2 linked regions of the Homo sapiens genome follow. The protein of the gene in region 1 binds, or shares a complex with, the protein of each later gene. Each region holds a gene or a part of one and is shown on either strand. Other genes may lie near its edges.

What was found. Proteins that work in one complex are often made in the same cells at the same time.
Region 2: ARMC7 (region 1) and SRRM1 share a complex: the UniProt entries of both Homo sapiens proteins name them as parts of the minor spliceosome.

The regions. Positions count from the first base shown.
Region 1 is NC_000017.11:75,108,571-75,112,318, forward strand, and holds the start of ARMC7 (armadillo repeat-containing protein 7), read left to right. Parts: upstream 1-1,579; 5' UTR 1,580-1,718; coding exon 1,719-1,809; intron 1,810-1,892; coding exon 1,893-2,036; intron 2,037-3,748. Other genes in the region: SLC16A5 (monocarboxylate transporter 6), read left to right, coding at 1,165-1,579. UniProt on the Homo sapiens protein: As a component of the minor spliceosome, involved in the splicing of U12-type introns in pre-mRNAs.
Region 2 is NC_000001.11:24,653,219-24,656,966, forward strand, and holds part of SRRM1 (serine/arginine repetitive matrix protein 1), read left to right. Parts: intron 1-1,087; coding exon of another isoform or gene 1,088-1,125; intron 1,126-1,636; coding exon 1,637-1,911; intron 1,912-2,433; coding exon of another isoform or gene 2,434-2,445; exon of another isoform or gene 2,446-2,472; intron 2,473-3,748. UniProt on the Homo sapiens protein: Part of pre- and post-splicing multiprotein mRNP complexes. As a component of the minor spliceosome, involved in the splicing of U12-type introns in pre-mRNAs. Involved in numerous pre-mRNA processing events.

The DNA of each region.
Region 1 (3,748 bases):
TCAGCCTAAATAACAGAGAGGCTCTCTCAAAGAAAATGATATCTATTTGGGCATAGGGCATTGCAATGGTAGTATCCATGCCATAGTAAACTATATGGGTATTCAGGGAGGTAAAGGAAGACAGGCTTTAAGGGAAAAAATAGGATTACATAATTGTTTTGAAATATTTATCCTTAGGTAGAAGGATTAATAACAAGGGTGACCGCTCAAGGTTGGACAAGCGGTTGCTGGGCAGATGGCCATTCAAAAGTATGTTTTGTGCAAGGTTGTGACGCCCTTTGTGCAAGGTTGTGGTTTTTGCAGAGTCTTTGTGATAGTTTTCATTATCAGGTATTTATGCACGAGAACCCTCTTGTCATGGGTTTCTTGGGCTGTGTCCGGGTTTTTTTGTTCTGTTTTTTAACACAAGTGACTCCATTTAGATTAACAACTTTTGCACTCTCAGGACACTCACAGCCTAAGCCACCTCTACCCCTACGTTGTCAAATGCGATGGGAGTGTGGCTAGACCACCTCCTTCCCTGGTGCTTTGTTTCCTGTAACCACGAGCAATCTATCACACACCCGCTTCCTGATAATCTCCGAGAAGGAATCGGCCGAAGGGCTTCAGCATCCAGAAAGCCCCGAAAGCGCCACAATCAAGGCTCCTCCTCGGGCTCCCCCGTGCTGCCCCGGGCGCGCGCCATCCACCCGGCTGACAAAAAGCACCAGGACATGACCCAGTACCCTTTGATTTCTGTCCAGAGGTGGCGGACCCACCTCGGGGCTGGGATGGAGGGCGGGTCGGGGTCGCTAGGCTTTTTGCAAAAGGGGCAAAGGACTGATGGGGGGCGTAAGGAGCTGACGCCCGCGCTCCAAAGGGGCGTCCTGGTCAAGGAGGATGGGCCGCGCCCCCGCCAGCCGTGGGGACCCTGGAGGTGCTTCTGCCTCGACGTCCTCCAACATGGGTGCTGCCAGACTCTGCTGCGCTCCTGAGTTGCTCCTGGCGGAATTCCAGCCACCCGACATGGGTGTCTCATTTTCGGCTTCTGGGCCATGTCGGGACGGCGGAGGACCCCGGGGGACCGGCGGGAGAGTGGGAAAGGTGGGGCGGGAAAGCCGAGCGAGGCCCTCACTCGCCCATCTGTTGGCGGGGGCGGCAAGTGGGTTTCTTTCTTGCGTTCAGATTTTGCAGTAATTTGCATCTGGACATGGGATACGGGAGGCCAGGCTGCTCCTCGCAGTACACCCACCCACGCCTGCACCTGCCTCAGCGAAGCCGCTCGCCGCTGGTTCCAGCACAGGCTAAAGAGCTTCGGCATCCAGAAAACCAGAAGCGCGCCGCGCACGCGCGCCAAGGAGTTCGGCGACGGCCCCGCCCCTTCGGGGGTAGGGACAGCGCGGCTTCCGCCGGGAGCCCGGAACCGAGCCCAGGAGCCGGGGACGGTGCGCCAGTGCCCCCTCCGCGAGCCCCAACCAGTAGACGGTTCCCTGTCTCCCGCGCCCCAATTTCGATTTTCAAACGCAACTCCTACAGGATTCTGAGACCCCGTCCCATCTCCCATATCCCATTTCCAGCTGCAAATTACTGCAGAATCTGAACCCAGGAAAGAAACCCATTTGCCGACCCCCTCTTCCCTCTCCAGACAGGTGGAGAGCGGGTGAGGGTCTCGCTCGGCTTTCCCCCTGCACCTTTCCCACCCTCCCGCCCGTCCCTGGGGGTCCTCCGTCACCGCGGCCATGGCCCAGAAGCCGAAGGTGGACCCCCACGTCGGGCGGCTGGGATACCTGCAGGCGCTGGTCACGGAATTCCAGGAGACCCAAAGCCAAGGTGAGAGCCACGGTGGGATCAGGTGGCAGGGTCCGCTGTGACCGCCGCCCGGACCTGGCTTCAGTGCCGCTTTCCCGTTGCAGACGCCAAGGAGCAAGTCCTCGCCAACCTCGCCAACTTCGCTTATGACCCCAGCAACTACGAGTATCTGCGGCAGCTGCAGGTCCTGGATTTATTTCTCGATTCGCTGTCGGAGGAGAATGAGACCCTGGTGGAGTTTGCTATTGGTAAGGGCGGGGCCCGTTCCCTAGATGCCTAAATGGGCCAGGGTGAGATAAGTGAATTAGAAGTGAGTCCTTGGGGCCGGGCGTGGTGGCTCACACCTGTAATCCCAGCAGTTTGGGAAGCTAAGGCGGGCGGATCACCTGAGGTCATGAGTTCGAGACCAGCCTGGCCCACATGGCGAAACCCCGTCTCGTACAAAAATTAGCTAGACGTGGTGGAGAGTGCCTGTAATCCCAGCTACTAGTGAGCCTGAGGCAGGAGAAGCTTGAACCCAGGAGGCAAATGTTGCAGTGAGCTGAGATCGTGCCACTGCACCACAGCCTCGGGGACAAGAGTGAGACCCCGTCTCAAAAAAAAAAAAAAAAAAAAAAAAGCCGCACACAGTGGTGTGCACCTGTAGGCCCAGCTACTCTGGAGACTGAAGCAGGAGGTATTGCTTGAGTCTGGGAGGCAGAGGCCGAAGTGAGCTGAGATTGTGCTACTGCACTCCAGCCTGGGCGACAGAGTGAGACCATGTCTCAAAAAAATATGTTTTAAAAAGAGCAGTTTTGTAGCCGGGCGCGGTGGCACACACCTGTAATACCAGCACCAGCACTTTGGGAGGCTGAGGTGGGCGGATCACCTGAGGTCAGGAGTTCAAGATCAGCCTGGCCAACATGGTGAAACCCCATCTCTAACTAAAAATACAAAAATTAGCCGGGCATGGTGGTGGGCGCCTGTAATCCCAGCTACTTGGGAGGCTGAGGCAGGAGAATCGCTTGAACCCGGTAGGCAGAGGTTGTAGTGAGCCAAGATGGCACCACCGCACCCCAGCCTGGGCAACAGTGAGACTCTGTCTCAAAAAAAAAAGCAATTTCAGGCGGGTGAGGTGGCTCACACCTTTAATCTCAGCACTTTGTGAGGCCGAAGCAGGGAGATCACTTGAGTTCCGGAGTTCAAGACCAGCCTGGGCAACATGACAAAACCCCATCTCTGCTTTAAAAAAAAAAAAAAAAAAATTAGTCTGGCGTGGTGTCCCAGCTACTCAGGAGGCTGAGGTGGGAGGATTGCTTAAGCCTGGGAGGTCAAGGCTGCAGTGAGCTGGGATTGGGCCACTGTACTCCAGCCTGGGTGACAAAACGAGAATCTGTCTCAAAAACAAAAATAACTCATATTTAGTGTTTTCATATCAAGAGAAGCAGAGATGGCTTGCAGTCTGTAACTTATGGCTTCTGTAGTTGTTATGATCTTAAGACCTATTGAGTTATTCACTGGGTAGATATTTATTGCGCGTGTACCGTATATGCAAGCTACTGCTCTAAATGCTGGAGTATGGTGAACAGCTTAGGGAAAGGTCTTTGCCCCTCAGGAGCTTACATTCTAGTAGGGGGGACAGGTGGTTAGCAAACAAAAAAGATGATGCTCAGAAGGAAGTAAATGGGGTGATGAGAGACAGCAGTGGAAGGTGGGGGTTACTTCAGTTTTGGCCATCATGAGAAAGGCATTTTAGCCGGGACACAGCATGGGCAAAGGCCTTAAAACAGGAAGGAGCCAGACGGAAGGCTGATGTGGGAGGATCGTTGCAGTGAAGTGGAGAATGGCACAAAAAGAGTTTAGAGAGTTCAGTGGCACCAGAGCTTGCAGGAGTTTAGATCTAGGCCGTGGGAAATAGTTTGAAGCAAACAAAATTTTGAGAACAAACAAAAATTCCTTTTTCAAGCAATGCAGTGCCCAC
Region 2 (3,748 bases), on another chromosome or scaffold:
CTGGTGTTGGAAAGTAAACGAGAAATTCATCTTATTGATACTTTTCTGTTAACTTTTACCCTTCTAGACTTCACCAAGAAATCATACTAAGTAAGAGAATTGGCCACCTTCTCTTTGGCTTTTAACTGGCTTCTGAAAAGTAGCTGATTATAGGGCCAGTAAGCTCCTTTTACCAGTATTAAAGTAATTCATTTGCTGTTATACTTTGAGAAAAGTATTTTTATGAATTTTTTATAAAATTCTCAGAAAATTCTCATTATAGAAGTAATGAAGCTTATAAGTAATTCAGACAGAAATAGCATAACTTGGAAGTTTTCCATAATCCGTGGGGGAATATATCTATATTCCATAGATATAATTGCTATTACTAGTTTAGTGTCTGGTTATTTTTCAAAACCCCAACTGTACCAGTGTTCTTTTTTTTACATCATTCTAAAATGAGCATAAGATAAAATATTTGAATCTTGGATATATCACTTTAAACAAAAATTAGTGGCTAAGTCTACCCAAAGTAGAGTCCTAGTGCACTGGTAGCAGTTTTTGTGCCTTCTTGCAATACGTTTCACCTGGCTTGGGAAGAAATGCCGATGATTAAGCTTCCAGTTATTTTGGACAGAATTTTTTGTTTGAGTCTTTTAAAGTTCTTTTCAGGGAACCAAATCAATTTGGAAATAAAGAGGGGAAAAATCAAGTAAGCTCTGTAAAGTTACTTTGTTTCTGCAGTCAGGTTTTTCAGAGTCCCATATTTTGAAAATTTTCTTTGGGGAGGGGTTGTTAAGATATATTGAACTATTACTACTGTTGCAAAGAATTGATGTGTTGTGCTCATAGAGGAAATTAGTGAGGTAAATGGTCAGTCAATTTTCAGGCATCACACTTTTCTAATTCCCTTTTAGGAGAAAAGTAATGCTGGTGCTTCCTAGTACAAGATTAGTGGAAACAGCTATTTCTTATACTGGAGTTTTGCAAACAGCATGTTTAAATTGTGCTTACTCAGCCATTTAGCAGTCAATATTTTACAGATTGTTTAAGATTCCCTTTCAGCCAGTTTTTATCTCACACTTAAGGTAGGGTTTCTTTTTTTCAGGTTCTCAGGAATTCTTCCGCCAAAGGTGAATTCTGCAGGTACACATAATTGCAACAGAACTTAACACAAATTTTGCCGCAGAATTCGAGAGGCCCCTGCTTCTAAGTTTATGTAGCTAAATGAATTCTTAGTTTTGCACATCTTTTTTAAAAATGCAACCTAAAGGTTTCTCAACATTGTGTTATTAAATGGAAAATACCTTGCCCCCAAATTTTATATGCAAACTCCAAAACACCAATACCATTCCTAAGGCAGAAGGACTAGTTAGTTATTTTATTATAGCATTCAACCTGACAAGTTTTATAACTGGAGAGAGAACACAGACAGAAGTATTTATCAGATTAAGTTGTTTATATTAATCTCAGAACTAGCTGTTTCCTGGCCTAGGTTATGGTTTTTTCCCCCATTCTTTTGGACTCATTTATGTGCTTAGCTACATAAACTCAAAAGTCGGATTAAAATAGCTGTATTTTTGTGTAAACTGTTCATACCTGTAAGGCCGTTCTTTATAAGTGTGCAATTAGTGAATATGAATACTTTATTCCACAGAAGAAGACGTTCGTCAGCATCCTTGTCTGGGAGTAGCTCATCATCCTCTTCATCTCGTTCACGGTCACCACCAAAGAAGCCTCCCAAGAGGACATCCAGCCCCCCTCGGAAAACTCGTAGGTTATCTCCTTCAGCAAGTCCTCCAAGGCGAAGGCACAGGCCATCACCTCCTGCAACTCCACCACCCAAAACTCGGCATTCCCCTACACCCCAGCAGTCAAACCGTACAAGAAAAAGTCGTGTTTCTGTGTCTCCAGGGAGAACTTCAGGTAAAGGTAAAAATCAAACACATATGAAACATGGTCTCTCTTTCTTTGGCTACAAAGCGTAGTCAGTTATTGCCCCCTGCTCACTCTCAAAGTATGAAATAGCTAGATAATATTTGTATCTAATACTCTCTGTAGGTTTACTTATAAGCCTACCTCTTTCCTGCTTTAAAATCTTGGGGCTTTTTTATGTGTAAAAGGGTTTTGTTTTTAGCAATGCCCTGTGGCATTGCGCAGGTGGAGAAATCTTTTACCAGCCGTGGGCTGTTTGAGTTGGGGTAACATATCAAAGTTTGCGTTGGCATGATAAGGGATCATTTTATTACTATGAGACCAGTTAACTTTTTTTTCTCCTGAAGATTTTTGGTTTGATATCTTAAATAAGAGGACTTCATATTCTCTTTTAGTTCTTTCTTGGTCGCATTGCGCTCCCAAGCAAAGGACATGGTGTCCTCTTAAAAGCTGATTTGTTTTTTTAATTTAGGTTCTAGGCAGGGTTCTTCTGAGTGTTGTCCTTGCTTTATTCTGCAGATTGATTTCTGAGGAATTTATGATCTGTGAACCTGCCAGGCAAGTAGAATGCTGTGTTAGTCTGAGTGAAGGTTGTGGTCTATTGGGGTTTGTTCTGTGAGCATTAAATACGCATGGAAAAAACTGTAGTGTCCATTTGAACCAGGCTCTCTGGAGCTTAGGGCTGGAATGATATACAGCCTAAAAGGTGAGTAGTAAGGGATGGGGAGGATCTTAAAAGCTGCTAAAGCAATTGAGTTTTAAGGAGCAATCTGTAGGTTAACACACGCTGGGGTTATTATGATCATATTGAAAATTTCAGGTTAGAGCCAGGTGTGGTGGCATGAGCCTGTGGTCCCAGCTACTCAGAAGGCTAAGGCAGGAAGATCACTTGATCCCAGAAGTTCAAGGCTGGCCTCAGCCCCATAGCGAGATCCTGACTCTTAAAAAAAGAGAGAGAAAAAATTTCAGGTTAGAAACAAAGAAATGGGGATGGGCAAAATTTTCATTATACATTTTAATGAGCTTGATGAGACCAGCATTGCTAATTATTCACCCTGTTGCCTTATCTCCCCACTCCCCAAGGCTGCAATGTGGTGATACCTAGAAAGGCAAATTTTGCTTTCCTTTTTTGTATCTGTGACAATGAGGCATAGATAAGCTGACAGAGTGAAAGGGTGACCAGCAGATTATGATAGTCTGTAAAAAGTAATGTTTTCTGAATTGTGACATTTTTATTGTAGTGATAGGTTCATTAAATAAGACATGGCCACTTTTGTTGGCCCCTTAGAGAAGCAGCTAGTGAAAGTAGAGAAGCCTGTAACTGTTCCAGGTTCAGTCCTCAGTTTGAGAGAGGGGCTTCGGGATCACTGTTTTCATAACCTCATGTACCATACTGCTTTTCAGCATTGGGAAAATTTCAGTCCATTTTCAGTTACCATGTCCAAATCTGATGCCCATGGCCCTGGCCTATTTTGTCTTTTCCTGTAAAGTTTGTACTTCTGAATATTTATTCTTTGTCTGGAGCCACAAAGCTCTCCAGGGAAAAAAACAAGTGTTTTTACCTGTTACTTTGCAAAAACACATCAAGTGATGATTTTTTTCTATTTATATCATATAGCCTAAGAGTTGCAAAAGTACCTGAACAGAGGGACCAATCCTTGTTAAAATAGGTTGATTGTTAAGAATTATTAGGTACTTTTAAAAAGCATCTGCACAGATGCTAATTTCTTGTGTTTTGGCATATACTTTTTGCAAACAAGACAAGAGTGGATATGTACATAGGAAAGAAGTAAGCCATGGTGAAAATAAGTATTTCTGTGGGTTTTGGGACAGG